Linked DNA regions of Homo sapiens: region 2 is linked to region 1. Evidence: fine-mapped expression QTL. Tissue or cell type: cerebral cortex. Region 1 holds a variant in brackets; the other region holds the start of a gene. All regions are shown on one strand. Distances are between the middles of the regions.

Region 1 (8,108 bases):
TTGCATTGATGAAGAAGAAATCCATTCTATCAAAATGTTTTCGCTCACCAAACCAAAGTAGTGTTTTGCCTGTCAATCTTATAAAATCCTCCTTTCAGTGAATGTTAAATATTGCCATTGCAGGTTTGAAAAGTAATAACCAGGGCTCAATTTTACAGACTACTTAACTCTGTGCAGTCAGTCAAGCTCAGGCTGAATTTGGTTTTGAGGCATGAGTGTTCTTTATGTCAGATCACACATGGGAAACTTGGCCCTGGAGTTTGACCACTTAGGGCTCAGAGTCCAAACTAAGCAGACATCTTGAACACAAACATGAAAATAGCACAATCTGAAGACACTTAATTTTTTGCCTAATCTCATTGTCATTGGTGGAAATGATGTTTGCATGTTCTACATGCAAATTCTATTCAAATTCCTCATTGTGTGACTTGAAACTGAGGCTCAGGAAAGGATAGGCAGAGGAGGACTGGTGATTACATTCTGGATGGCCCAGGCTCCCACGAGGCCACAAAATGCTCCTCAATATCAGGATCAGCAGACTACTGATGCTGGATTTAGATATTAATCATGTTTCTTCAAATACAAATTACTTGAATCTGAGAAGTCTAGCATTTTGCAAATAAAAAAAAGTTTGCCTTGAATATCAGTTGCAGAATGATCTGCATATGGGAAATCCATTTCTGAAGCAGAGTTAATGTGGTCACAAATGGGAGGGTTTGGAGTCTTCTCAAATTTGGATGTGGAGTACGGGATAAGGAATGAACCTCTGCTTGGTTGAGTGAAAACCAAGCAGCAGGGAGGGGAAGGGCCAGTCATGTCTTACATCCTTGGCCCCCTGCTAAGCCATGGGACTTGAGCAAAACTCCAATGTTTTGGTCTCAAGCATCCCACAGTTTATGTGACTCCAACCTGGGAGGAACTTGGGCTTCTGAATCTATAATTAGTGGTTTGGGATTTATTTTCTTAGTTAAAAAATGAGACTATGGGAATGACTACCTCATTGTTAACTCTAAGCCCCAACATATCAAGAATTAAGTGCAAAACTCAGAATGCCCTTTAAATAAATCTATAGTTCAGAAGGGGTACCAATGTTCAGACCATAACAAGAACAACGACTTTAACATGCCCAGTCTATGGAAAGCAAATGTTAAGTTTCAAGCAGCAGCTTCATATTAGAATCATGCTTAAGTTGCTTTTTCATTCATCTTTCCTGCACAGAATGTATGCTCTGCATTCCAACTTCAAGTGCTTTGCTGCACAAGTCAGCTAACTATTCAGTTCACTTGCATCAGTTGCATTTCAATTAGTGGTAAGTACTGGAAGCATGCAGTTTAGGCTAGTAATTAATGTAATCCTACAAATACAAGGCAACTTACTCTGCGTCATCAGACACAGGAGTTCTCGGACCGTATCTATAAGATCAAATAAAAAATTAGAGGACTGGCAGAGTTGAAAGTGAACACTGTAAGCAAGCTGGAAATAGAAACTGCCGGTGAAATACATGTGCGCCAAACCTTTTTTGCTGAGATACTGAAAGAGAAATGGCATTATACAATTAGCAATATTCATTGGCTGCTGAAAAATCAAAGACAAGTCTTGATATTTCTAAAAAATGCAAAATTTATCTCAAAACCCAGAAGAGAAATGAAAATAATCCCCACACTACCCAAAAAGAAAGAATCTGTTCAATATAAACACAGAAAGGCTTAGGTGCAATCCACAGCGTTTAGAGAAGGCAGCTTAGAAAACAAACATGTATTACAGTCATTCACAAACAGTTCAACTTTTTGTGCCTTTATGTTCAGCAGTAATGGGCTGTAATGGACACCCACTGTACAAGTGCACCCTTACTGACCCTGTCCCTGAGATGTTAATGCATTTGCACAAATAACATCAAAGAGTGTTTCTGCAGTTTTCTGAAGGGAAACCAGAACTCCAACCAGAACCCCAATCAGTGCCTTCCGCATGCATTTGACAGAAACCACAATTCCTAGAAAACTGGTAGCCTTAATCAAAACCAGACTTGAATGATACTCCATAACTTGAAAAACTAAAGTTTTTTTCTAATCTTTTATATTCTCCTGATAATTTAGATCCATAAAGTTGTACCCTCTGCGATAGTCACCGGAAGTCTAAATGAGTCTAAAGCAAAAAGACTAAATTAGAAAAATATTAGAACATTACAAGCCATATTTCCAGCACATGAAAAAACAACAACAACAACAACAACAACAACAACAAAACAACACAGCTCCCACAAATGCCTGTCTCTTCAGCAAAGGCGAGTTTTAAGGGTCAGTTCTTACCTATACCCTGAAAAGCTCCTCCTTTCTGCAATTCTGATGGTGGACAAAGAATAGTGAAGAAAATACGTCCTGCTTCCAGTTTCCAATAAATTACATTTTGGAGTCGGCAGCAAAAATTACCTGGTCCCATGATCAGTTTCACAATAGTTTATAGGAAAAGGGTAATTTCTAAACATCTCTTCCTGCAATCTTAGAGAAATCTTAGAGAATCTTAGAGAAAACACCCCAGAATGCATGAGTGTACACACACATACCCCCTTCTCTCTTATGCTTTTATCATTCTAGAATAATCTACATTCATTGATAATGATTTAATTCACAGTGAAGGCAACCATACCAATGCAAAACCCCAAATCTCTGTTGAAATGGCCAAAAACAAGACAAGGAAAGGGTTTATGAATGTTTTTCTTCTGGCAGTAAGACTCATTTTCTCCTTCTCCAGAGTATCGTTTCGGAAGGTGCTTAAGTTGAACCTAATATTCTCAATTTTCAAAAACACTACTGCATTGAAGCAGATGACAAGTGGGTTCTTTCACATTGAGAGAGTGGGCTGGGCGTGGTGGCTCATGCTTGTAATCCCAGCACTTTGGGAGGCCAAGGCAGGCAGATTGCTTGAGCTCAGGAGTTCGAGACCAGCCTGGGCAACATGGCAAAGCCTTGTCTCTACCAATCACATAAAAAATTAGCTGGGCATGGTGGTGCACACCTGTGGTCCCAGCTACTCTGGAGGGTGAGGCAGGAGAATCACTTGAACTGGGGAGGCAGAGGTTGCAGTGAGCAGAGATCACGCCACTGTACTCCAGCCTGGGTGACAACAGAGTGAGACTCTGTCTGAAAAGGAAAGGAAAGGAAAAGGAAAAGGAGTGCAAGGGCAATATTAATTCTGAAGACTAGGTAAGTGTTTCCCAGTTAATAAATAGGCCTATTGGAATACATTTATTCAAACACAGTGTTTTCTAAGTTATCTATGGAAGAGAGCAGAGAATTTCTTCCCAATGGATGGTTAATCAAGAATCTATTAATAGTTGCTATGTGTTTTTGTGTTTCAATTTGAATATTTTAATTAACATTTTATTGAAGTTTAAGCTATATACAGAAAGTGCACATACCACACATATACTTCAATGCATTTTCACAAAATGAACATATGCATAGATTAGCGTTGAGTGATTTGTACTACGTAAACAGACTCAAATAGTATGTACTCTTGAGTTTGTCTTCTTTAGCACATTTTGTGAGTTTCAACTATGTTGTTGCATGTAGGATATATCTGAATTTAAGTTGTTTCTACACAAAGTAATTAACAGTATTTCATGGACATCTCTACCAATAAATGTAGATCTATACCAAAATGTAAGCCCCACAGAAGCAGAGATTTTTCTGTTTGGGTTCCCTGAACAGTGGCCAGACTAGTCAATAAGTATTTATTAAATACTTATCAGGTGCTCTAGAAATTGAAGAGAAAAGAATAGCCCAGTTTCCGAAGATAACCTTCATTTATCCCTTTACTATGTACTGGGGGTTTAAGGAATTTCCTCTGAGACTTGTATTAGCTTTAAAAGGGCACCAACTTAAGCAGAATTGCCTTTGCTGGCAAGGGGAAGATAATTAGAGCTGAGGTGTCAAGTGACTTTCCCAATCATCCTACAGGAGATCAAAAAGTAAAGGCAAGTTAGCAAAAAAAAAAAAAAAAAAAAGTAATAAAGCAATCTTTCCAATGCAAAGTACGTGACTCAATAGGTTATGAGGTAAAAATTGGCCACGCAGGTCACAGTTGACAAAAGCATCCTACAAAAAAAAAAAAAAAGTCAATAAAGTTTAATTTTGAGGCCAGGCATGGTGGCTCATGCCTATAATCCCAACACTTGGGAGGCTGAAGTTAGAGGATCACTTGAGGCCAGGAGTTTGAGACCAGCCTGGGCAACATAGTGAGACTCTGCCTCTACAAAATAAAAACAAAAAAATCAGCCAGGTGTAGTGGTGTACGCCTGTGGTCCCAGCTACTTGGGAGGCTGAGGTGGGAGGATTGCTCAAGTCTGGAAGGGATATGCTGCAGTGAACTATGATCACACTAGCTTGGGTGATGGAGTGAGATCCTGTCTCAAAAAAATAAAATAAAGTTTACTTTTGAGGGTAGGGGTAGGTAGAAAGATAAAGGGAATAGCCTATGCACCCATTGCCTGTATTTATGTAACTTTCACTACTAATAAAGCATTTCAGAATCAATAATTTGATAGTTATCTATTTCTATATCATGAACTAGCGTTAGCTTAAAGTGTTTTTACTGCTCATCTAAGATCACCCCCAGCATCCAGCACAGTGCTTTACACATAGTGATTATTACTTGATAAACACTTGTTGATAGGAAATGTGCATACCGACAGTGTTTGCTGGCTCATTCACACAATATGTCACATAGTTCACCTGACCATT[C/T]CTCCCTGTGCTCAGAGTAACTGTCCATTCCCATGTGAAAATAAAGAGGAATCTTTCCAGAATCACAAAGAGTGACAGGCCAGGTGCAGTGGCTCAAACCTGTAATCCCGGGACTTTGGGAGATCAAGGCAGGTGGATCACTTGAGGTCAGGAGTTCCAGACCAGCCTGGCCAACACAGCGAAACCCCGTCTCTACTAAAAATACAAAAATTAGCTGGGCGTGGTGGAGGGCGCATATAATCCCAGCTATTCAGGAGGCTGAGGCATAAGAATCGCTTGAATGGGCAGAGGTTTCAGTGAGCTGAGATCGGGCCCTGCACTCCAGTCTGGGCAACAAAGCAAGACTCCATCTCAAAAAAAAAAAAAAAGTGACAGAGAATTCCTCAGGCTTCCACAGTCTCCTCTAGTTACTCGTGTAGGCATCATGCTGGAGAGGGATGCTGGTTTTCCACTCTGACAGAGCTGAGTTTGGATCTTGGCTCTGTAGGTACCAGCTGTGTACATGTGGACCTCAGTTTCCTAACTGCAAAATGCAGATGAAAATTCTTCCTCTCAAAGGTAGTGTAAGGAATAAATGAATGGGAGAGCGCCTAAATGTATCCAGTAGGCAGTCTCTAGGCCTCACCTCCTTCTTTCCTTTCATTCTAACTTGCTTTACAGAAGCCCGCGGATCCAGGGTCAAGTCCAGGGCATCTGGAAAGTGAGTAACTGTGGAGGACCCACTTCACCACTCTGTTCCTCTGTCTTCCCAGTCCTAACCAGCTCGGGAATCATGTGTGATCCACTCACGCAGCTTTTCTCTACATCAGCCTTCTTATTTGTGAAATGGAGCTAACATAGATTCCTTCAACCTACCTGTGAATTCCCAGGACAAGGTGAGCTTGAGGGAGCAGACACACAGGAAACGCTACAAAGCACTCTGTGGTTGTAAAGCACAAATATTACTTCTGCTCCCTGAAAACAGTGCTAGGCTCCATTACTGTTTTATTCAGAAGAATGTAAAATATAGATTAAATTCAGGTGATCAAGATGGCTAGGGTATTGATTTTTTAAAAATCTGGAGAGATTACCTACTGTTCTCCTTGCCTCCCACTCTGCCTTCTCTCCCACTGCCATCAGGGTCCTTGGAGAAGCAGAACTCCATTGCTTCCTATTTTATGGTGAGCTTATAAATTATGCAAAGCCCTCCTCACTTCTTTGCCCTACATTGGTAGGCTTACCATACATTTAACAAAAATGTATCACTTTTATTAAATGGCAAGACAGGCTTCAACATATAGGACCCTAAACTGGAACAGGAACCCCAGGATAATTATTTCCTTAGTCGTCATCAAGTCATGGTTGACTCTAAGTCAAGTCAGAGCATGGAATAGAAATCCTACTGCAGAAGGCAACGAGTGTTTGCTAATGTTGAAAAATTAATATAATTACAACTTTTATAAATGTATTCATCTTCTTTGGACCTGGAATCAAAGTGAAATCAAGTAAGTCAGATAGAAGTTCAACCCCTTTGCCCAAAGGCTCCTATGTGAGCTAGAAAGAAATAAAAGAATTTCCCATTTATTCAGTCCACAAGAGTCAGAAAAAAATGTTTAACAGGTAAATTCACCACTGAATCACACCTGCTTACATGTAAAAAGAGGAAAAATTTCTTCGCAGATGAGGCCAATTTTGATCATTCTGTTTCTGCTAGCAACAGCAGGTAAGCGGCACTGAGGTGCCATAATGCATTAAGAACACACTGAAAGCTCAGACTGGAGAAACAAAGTCACAAGGGCACAGAATAACTTTCTGACCTCTGATCTTTCATGGGTAGACCTTTAGAAGATTCTTCCACATCCTGTTGCTTTGCAAATGGAACTGGAAGGAACTGGTTTGGGTTGGATCCAGTGTGTCTAAGGGACATCCCAGTTCTCCTGGCCATCATGTCATCTTTTCGTGAATCATCCAACTTTCGCTGGCCTTTCAGTCCACTGCCACTCCAGGCAGGAGCTGTCATCTTCTCCAACTTCTCTTCTGTCCCTGAAGCCTCACACTCAGAGGCCAGAGGACACACCCTAGGGCAACATTCAGTCCAGCCAGTCAAAGGCCACTTACTGCTAAAGATATTTTCAGTAGTGTCACTCACTGGCGTTAATTCAAGACAGAAGAAGCCAGCATCCCTGGAGGCAGCGGCACACAGAGCAGCTGAGCAGGAAATCTCCCTTTTGAGTACTGGGACCCTCTGTCATGCAGCTGATACTCACACAGGAATGGGGGTCCCTTTCTGGTTTTCATGAGTCCTGAGAATGAAATTTGGCCAGTACTCAGCCACATGCAAAGGCTAAAATATCTACCCAGAGCGGGCACCAGAAGCAGAACTCTGATCTTGGGATGAGCACACTCTTTTAGTGACTTTACTCCACGCTCTATCAGTCGCCAGGTGCAGACTGTGACTTTAAGCTGTTTTTTTGGGAACACGACAGCCACACACAGCAGGGGCAACACACCACGGAGCAGAGCGCAGGCAAGATGCTCACAGTGGCTGGCTGCTGTCCTCTGATCTTTCTGCCTTTGACAGCCTCTCAGAATCTCTTGGAGCGCTTTCTGTTTCTTCTTTGCCATCCTGTGGCAGCTGTTTGGATGTAACTAAAGCCAGAGAGGACAGTTTCACTCCTAGGAAAGAATTCACACCAGAGGCTCTGACCCCACCTGTCCTCCTTCACCTCCCGGGAAGGCAGGAAACACTGCTCCTCACCTTCCTCTGTCCCCCTCGGGCACTCGCCCAAACTGCAGACCCACTCTTCCTGAGACTCCGGCACAGGAGCCAGCCACGAGGCCCTTCTGCAATAGTCACCTCGGCCACAATTCATTGTTCTGCAGACGATCAAGTAGCATTGGTGGCAAGAGAGGAGAGGAACATGGGTTACGAAAGAAGACAGTGAAAGTCCTTGGGACTGAAAGATTAAGAGAAGAATGTGGCTGCTCTCATTCCAAAGGCTGGTTAGTAAGGATGATATAATCAGATTGAGATAATGGAATGTGAACTCTGGCTAGGGCCTATGAAGGTCAAACAAGGCTGTGTGACTCTGTCACCACAAGACTGAATGATGGGCCTCTCAGGATTCAAGGCCTCGAGGACGTATTTCTTATTAATTTCCTACCCCCTCCTCCCCACCCCAGATCCCCACCATCCTCTGAAACCTCAACTCTTTATTTCTGGTGTTTATAGCCTTCTCTCTTCTATGGTGTCACCCCGAGTCTGGAACCAAAGAAACCCTTCTATAGGTCATAGGCCATCCATCATTTCCTTTGGATTTCAAGGGCAAGGTATAAAGAAGAATGCTATGAACACTTCTTCCTGCTACGGAGAGCCTCACTTTGCTCCTG
Region 2 (8,108 bases), 98 kb after region 1:
GTTCTCTCTTACTGTAGATACCTGCACTTACATACATATAAGACCATCCTCTGACTTCAGGAAATACTGAGGTCAGGTTCCCTGGCAGTAGGGAAGCTGCTATGATGGGATGGATTTCTGGAAACAATTGAAATATCAACGTGGAATAAACTTTATAAATACTTATCTTAAGGGAGTGTTGGCAGAAGCAAGGAAAATGGGTCAACTTCAGGAAATAGCACAGCCTATTTAAAGGCAAAAAAATCAAGAAACAAAAGGGAGTTCAGTTGCTGGTAAATCAGTTTTCTCTTTCTAACAAGTTTATTTATATGCATTTTTCTCTTCTTCCTATAAGGAAGGTATTTTTTCCTTCCTTTAAGTTTTTACTGTTAAATTCACACATTCACATTTTTTTAGTCCTTAATTACCCTGACTGAGTAATTTGAGAGCAGAAACCTCTGGCCATCAGGAAAAAAAAAAAGAAAAGAAAGAAAGAGAGAAAAACACATGTCCAAAAATTCCCTAAGCTTTTCCATATTCCTAAAAGCAAAATGTAACACTAGCAGTGTAAATAAAATCAATACACTGAGAACTCCTAAGGCTGGTTCTCAATGGAACCAGCCATTCCATTCTTGGAATGAAAACCTGAAACGGAAACGAGGAAGATGAAATGAGATTCTACCTAAAAAGACTCCAACAGATTGAGGGCTAGTGTGAAAATCCCAGGATGTGTAATGAGGGGAGGGGAGTAAGCTCTATGGTCAGAGCTCCCATCCAGCCCAGAGTGGCCCAGCAGAAGTCAGGCAAACACAGACGCAGTCCACATCGCTGCTCTACCACAAGCATGGCTGAGTTCGGCTTTTCAGATGTCGGACCTGGGGTGGGCCCTAGGAGGGGCTCAGAAACCAGAGCGACTTTTCAAGTTGTGTCCTTTATGGTATTTGCAGGGAAAGGGCCAACAATAGCCAAGGGGCTGTTTACCAAAGTCATTCTCCAGCACCTCCCACAGAAACGCTTGTGGAAATCACTGCCAAAGCTTACATGGGAATCAAACAGAAGGAACTGAGCACAGCCATGTAAAACATGCCCCAGTCATTTCGTAAGCTCTGTTTCTTCACAGATGGCTGCTGTGGAAGAAATGACTGCTTACAGAAAGCAGAGATCCAAAAATTAATCCAGCCACTGGGATGAAAGCAGGATGAAAAATGATCCTGTTCTATAATTCACATTGGTGATTTACCAGGTCTGGGCTATAAGACATCTAGGGATAAAACTGCTACTCAAAAGCAGATCTGGCAAAGGTGAGGAAACGGTGTGAAGGGCAGGTACTGCTGAAGATCTCTAGAGTCAAAAAAGGATTCACCAAATTAAAATAGAATGTTTCACAGACCAGTAAAGCCAGATGGGAGTTGGTAGCTCATACATATCCTTGTATTTCCAAGAGATGGGAGACTCCAGACTCTGAAAGGGACCAAACACAAGCTCACCTGCTGCGGCAGTACCCAGAGCTGAAAAGAGAGGATGCCAAAGGAATCCAGCCTTCCCGAATCTACACTCTCAAGGCTGGGCTTTGGGACTCTAAGGGTCTAATAAGCTATGGCTCTTATTTTATATCATTACAACAACTGCTTTGGTTCCTTCATTCTTTCACTACTTACCTGTGCTTCTTTACATTTCACAGGTTGATGATACATTACTGCTTTGGATTTCCCTTCAGTTTCATGGTTCAATCCAATGCCCACGTCTACATTTCTTTCACTGCCTTTATACTGCTGTACAGTTAGACTTCATCTGCTACTCCACACACACACAAATCTCTCCCTACTTCCTCACTCCTCATTTCCTGTTGGGAGCTAAGTTTAAAGCTTCATCCTTCTAGATCTACTCAACATTCCTTTTTAAAAGGTAGAGAACAAGGAACGTAGCAGCTGTGTTCGCTGAGCCATTGAATTCACACTGCCCAGCAGCCCTTGAAAGTCAACTGCAGCGTCCATCAGGGCAAGGACTGACAGTTTGTTTCAACACTGAATATGGTTAGTACCTGGCAAGGAGCAGGAGTTCAATAACTCTTGGCAATAATTCGTCATCATTTTCCCCCTGAAATCCATTTTATTATTCTTTTTTTTTCTTTTCAGGCTAGAGTGCAGTGGTGCGATCTCAGCTCACTGTAACCTCCACCTCCCGGGTTCAAGCGATTCTCCTGCCTCAGCCTCCTGAATAGCTGGGATTACAGGTGCCCATCACCACACCCGGCTAACTTTTGTATTTTTAGTAGAGATAGAGTTTCGCCACGTTGGCCAGGCTGGTCTCGAACGCCTGATCTCAGGTGATCCACCTGCCTCAGCCTCCCAAAGTGCTAGGATTACAGGCGTAAGCCACTGCATCTGGCCCGTTTTATTCTTTTATTCTCAAATTATTCTCTCTACAGGACAAGAGAAGGTTTAAAAATCACTGAATCATGATTTTAGGGAAATATTCAACCTAAAAGGCAGGGCCAAAATCTCAAAGGGTCCCAAATTTATCCCAACAGCCAAAGTTCCTCCTCCTCCTCTTTCTCCTTCTTTTCCTACTCCTGTTTTTCTTCTTCTTCATATCTTGAACCACATGACAAGAAAAAAAAATCTAGACTCTTTACCTATATTAATTAATTTACTCTTCATGAAAACCACATAAGGTAGTTACTATATTATGTCCATTTTTACAGACGAGGAAACAAACGATTGTGTTGCCTGCCAAAGATCAGCACACAACTGAGAAGCTGCAAATCCAGGATTTGAACTCAGGCCATCTCACTCTAGAATGTCAGCTCCTAGCTGCCCTGCATACTATGTCCTGAAGGAGAGCTCTTAAGAAGGCCAACTGAAGCCTATGGGGAACAGTATCCTGGTCATTCATTTCCCAAATTGTTATTGAGTGTCTACTATATACCAGGTGCAGGGAATACCCCCAACAGCCATGGTCACTGTTCCTGTCTAGTCAACATTCCTGTTGCTTTCCTAATTGCCATTTGTTATAGCTCCCAGAGAGTAAGCATGCTGAATCCATTAGAAAAGGAAACTCAAGAGTGAGTTCTTCTTCCATATCTTTATCCTTTAAACTTTATTATAGAGAACAATTGCCACTCCTCTCAGCATTAGTTGGGACTCCAGCAAGAACCAGCTAGGACTATGTATCAGCCTGGAATGCATAGTTACAGAACTAAATGGAAATGGGAAAATGAATACAACGGTGTTAGGAAGTCCCTCTCTGCCCGATGATTAGATTGAGGAGATGTATTGGCAGCTGTAAGGAGGGTGGCTTATTCTTGCCCCTTCTTCCCTTGGGAAGGTCTTCAAAATTGGAGGAGTTATGGCTGCCCAGTCACCTTCTAGTCACCTTACAGAGAGAGCAGGAGAGCAGAGTGGCACATACCCTCAGGCAGGATTCCTGAGTCAAAGGCTGGCTGCTGACACTTGCAGCCTCTCGGTTTTATTTGACCTTCACCTTGTGCGGAACCCACCCGCGCAGCACAGGACAAACCCCTTCTCCCGGGACTGCTGAATCAGCCACTCTGGGAGTGGCAGGAGAGAAGTTTCAGACTCCTGAGACATTTGGTCTATTCAGCACCATGAAGAAAACGGCTGTAGCTCAGTGAGAGAATCACAATCAGGAGCTGGCTGAATAAAGGTGATAAAAATAGATTTCCCGACTCCACAAAGATGAATCATTTTGCCATAGGGATTCGCCAGGCTCTGTTTCAACCTGATTTTCAACCCAGCCTCATAAATTTGGCTAAGGAAAATTTTCTTCCCCTAGATAACCAGTGCCATGGAACGTTTAGCATTCAGACGGGTCTGACGGGATTTTATGAGACAATTGTCCAGAAATAACCCCCATTCCTTTCCCGGCCTGCAGTAAATAGTGACTATGAAGGACAAGGACTAAGTGGGCAAGGCTGGAGATGCAGCCCTTCCCTCCAGACTCCTCCCTGCCTCCCCAATGTCTTCCTTGCTTCTTTTCCTCCTCATTTTAAGAAATGGAAGTTTTTAAAAAGCAAAGGGGGCTGTGGAGTCAGGAGCAGAATGTGACAGGGGCTCAGGTGAAGCAGCCCCACCATGAATGCAGCCACATCTCCCCCACAACACCATGTGCTGCTGGACCACATCTTAAAAATGCAGCCAAGTTGCTTCTCATTCTCAAAATTCTCAAAAATCCTTTTTATTTTGACTAAACTAATGGAGTTATGTGTCTTGTACCACATACCGGAAAATAAAAAACAATGCTTTCCTTAGGGAATTAAAAAAAAAAAAAAGCTTAATTAAAAGCAACAGGTGCTAACAGTTATCAAAGGACAAGATGAATCCACAGGAAAGTAATTTTCATATTATTTTCGCCATACTAATAAGTGAATAAAAAGTCACTTTTTTTTAAACCAAGTATTAAAGTCTAAATAGCTTCCTTCTTTCCATCATGGATACCCCTAAGCATGTATTTCTTTTATAATGAATTTTACTTACCCCCACACGTCCTCATGCTCCGCAATGAACTCCAGCCAACCCACTCTGGGAGATGGGAGGGGCATCTCTCCTGTGTGCTCCTCGTCAGCCCCAGCACAGCAGCCGAAATGCCCTTACATTTCCTTTCCCAAAACAGTCGTCACCACTGCCAACCCCTGCTCTGTCCACAAGCAGGCTGCTGCGGCTGAAATGCTGATGCAGTGAAAGGGAACTGGAAGACAGCTGATTGCCACACCTATTGGAGAGGGAGGCGGAGAAGCCCATTCCCTCTGAGGAAAAGGAATGGCATCTTCAGAAGTAGAGATGCCAGGATTGGAATTGTGCAGAGAGCTTTGTGTCAGCCACTAGCACACAGTAGGTTTGCAGTACTGTCAGGAAATCTGGATCTAGAAAAAGCACCCAAGTGGGACCCGAGGAACAAAGACTCACTCCAGTCCCAACTCTGGAACAAAGTTGCTGCCTGACTCCAGGCAAGTCACTGCCTTCTGGTCTCAGTTTCCTTATTTGTAAAATAACAATGTTTCAAAAAGTAAATCTCTAAGTGGCTTCTAGTTCTGGGATTCTAAGACCATCCTAATGTTCATGAGCATAATAAAAAGTAAACTACCATTTATTGAAAACATCCTGTGTACCATCCATCATATTAGGTATTTTATGTATATCATCTCATTTAATCCCACAATGCTGAGATGGGATTTATCAACCCCATCTTATAGATGAGGAAACTGGCAAACTCACTCCATGAATCCCCATGAAAAAAAAGGATCATCATATTCCTTCAGTGTTTTGAATTTAAATGGAGGCATTCAATCTTTGTGCCTGAAATTGAGATGACATCTGAGAATGGAATTTCTGCACTGCTGGGAGATTAATGTGTTTACAGTCCTCTGCTGGTATAATTCTGAGGTACTAGTATTTATGGTTATGGCTGTTCATGCTACTGCAAAATCCATTTTCCACCTGTTGCTTTTTATTAAACCTCCCTAAAGGACATGAACTATTTCTTTCTGCAGATTCTAAAAGCAGGATGCTGAAATATGTGAGCAGAAGCATCGTGTGCGGAGTTACCATTTGGAATTTTCAAATGCTATAAAACACAATGTTTACAACCAATTCATCATTTATAAAAGTTTATTGGATTAATATGCCAATGGACTCACTGGTATCCTGCCATTTATTGACACAAATACATCAAGTGGTAGGCTGACATTTAATATTTATTAATAACTTCTGTATTTCCTTACCTATTTCATAGTTTCCTTGCATTATGCTCTTTTATCTTTATTGTCATTCATCCTACTTTAAGTGAACTTTTTATTTTAGAATAGTTTTTAGATTTATAGAAAGCTACAAAGATAATATGCAGAGTTTCAGTATAACTCATGTCTTACATCTTACATTCCTATGGTACATCTACATTTATCACAGTTAAGAAATAAACACTGGTACACTACTATTAACTAAATCCATGTTTTATTTGGATTTCATTAGTTTTTCCCTAATATGCTCTTTCTGTTTTAAGATCCCATCTATAATGCCATATAATATTTAATCATTATGTCTCCTTAACTTTTTCTGGACTTTCCTTGTTTCTCAGATATGCCTTGCTTTTGATGGCCTTGACAGTTTTGAAGAATACTGGTCGGGTATTTTGTAGAATATCCTTCCATTTAGGTTTGTCTGATATTCTTTCCATGGCTGGGGATATAGGTTTTTGTGAGGAAAAAGTACCATTCTTTTAACACTGAGGGAAAAGAGGAAAAGTACCATTCCTATATAACATTATATCAATCATCCTATTTTTAATGTTATGTTTAAGTTAAATCAAAAACTTAAACTGAATATAGTTAAATTTTAGAAAGGAAAAATTAGATATCAAACTACTCAGAAATCTAGTATTTTATACTGTGGACAGAGCGACAGAGAGGAATTAATTTTTGTACCATTTGAGATGAAGGTAGACCTAACATTCTAGCAGAAAGCCAGCTAATTACAAGAGAGGCGTCTAGCGAGTTCTTTTGAAATGCTTGCCAAGACAAACTTCCTACAAAAACAATCCAGAGGAAGGCACGTTTTAAGAGAAGTGCTGTTTCAGCCTAGCATGGTCTCATACTTCATACATTTGGTGGTATTTTTTTCCTGTTGTCAAACAACCAAATCCCTATAAACCTGGGTTTGGAATACATGCTAAGAATTAGTTCCACAGAAAGTTATCCTCTAGGTAAGCTATAACTATGGAAAAAAAGGAGTCAGACGTCAGCTGAAATATGTATTTCCTGCTATTATATATTTTTTGCTCACAGTTTGTAATTGAAGGTCTATTCCTAAGGGAAAAAAGTGAGGAACTGATGTAATGTCACAAATTCTGCTAAACGCTGTTCAACGAAAGATAAGGGAGAACAAGTGGTTTCTTTCTTCAAAGAATGGCATTTTTTGTTTTTTCGGGAACAGGAAAGGGAAAAAAAAATGAAGTTGGGGAAAAAAAAGCTTTACAGCACTGCTATATATAACCTTCCACCTCTGCAGAGACACAGAATAATTATGGAAACAAATTTGGAAAAATAGTTTGTGGTGGTGCAGAAAGAGGATATTAGACTTCAGCTAGCAAGTCTAGGCATTCAAAACACACGTGAATAAGAATTTAAGGGCTTAGCTGGCTAACCCACTGTTACGAGCTAAATTGTCTCCTCCTCCCTCCCCCAATTCGTATCTTGAACTCCTAACCCGTTCTAACTCAGAATGTGACTGTAGTGACTGTAAGAAGGTAATTAAGTTATATGAGGTCATCTGAGGGGGCCCTAATCCAATACGACAGTGTCCTTATAAAAAGGCAAAATATGGACACAGATACATACAGGGGAAAGACCACGTGAAGATGCAGGGAAAGGCAGCCATCTGGGAGCCAAGGAGACAGGCCTTAGAACAAACCCACTCTGATCACACCTTGATCTCAGACTTCTAACCTACAGAATTGACAAAATAAATTTCTATTATTTAAGCCATCCAATCTGTGGTACTTTGTTATGGCCATCAGAGCAAATTAATATACTCATCTAGTACTAAGAATGAAATATCAGGGGTATAAGAGAGGCTGCAGGGCACAAGATTGGATGGATATGATATCTCAATGAATTGTCAATTATATGAAGATCTTTCTTTTCTTTTCTTTTTTTTTTTTTTTTTTTTTTGTGACAGGGTCCGACTCCCATCACCCAGGCTGGAGTCCAGTGGCACATTCAAAGCTCACTGCAGGCTTGACTTCCCAGGCCCAGGTGATTCTCCTACCTCAGCCTCCTAAGTAGCTGGGACTACAGGCATGCACAACCATGCCTGGCTAATTTTTTGTATTTTTAGTAAAGACAAGATTTTGCCATGTTGCCTAGGCTGGTCTTGAACTCCTGGGCTCAAGCGATCACCTGCCTTAGGCTCCCAAAGTTCTGGGATTATAGGCATGAGCCACTGCACCGGTCTTTCTGTCATGATTTTCAATTCTAAGTGCAATTGCTAATGACTTTTCCTGTAGTCTCAAACTCCTTTTTTCACTCCTTTCTCCATATCCCAGTCCCTGCCAATGTGGATCAAACACTCCAAAGACAATACTATAATTTGGAGGGGGAGGGGAACTTCATAGTG

Evidence for each region. PIP is the estimated chance that this variant, and not a neighbour inherited with it, causes the effect.
Region 2: it holds the start of LIMCH1, and the variant in region 1 is fine-mapped to the expression of LIMCH1 in cerebral cortex (GTEx, PIP 0.92).

What each region holds. Positions count from the first base shown.
Region 1 is chr4:41,632,236-41,640,343 of GRCh38, reverse strand. LIMCH1 (LIM and calponin homology domains 1) reads right to left here. Exons shown (of 32, transcript NM_001330672.2): 11 at 7,477-7,595; 12 at 7,259-7,367; 13 at 6,536-6,796; 14 at 1,377-1,412. Among named protein-coding and RNA genes, the nearest start is that of LIMCH1-AS1, 57 kb to the left of the region's middle. The variant C/T (reference allele first, on the strand shown) is at 4,740.
Region 2 is chr4:41,534,718-41,542,825 of GRCh38, reverse strand. It overlaps LIMCH1 (LIM and calponin homology domains 1), which reads right to left and starts at 4,669. Exons shown (of 32, transcript NM_001330672.2): 1 at 4,476-4,669.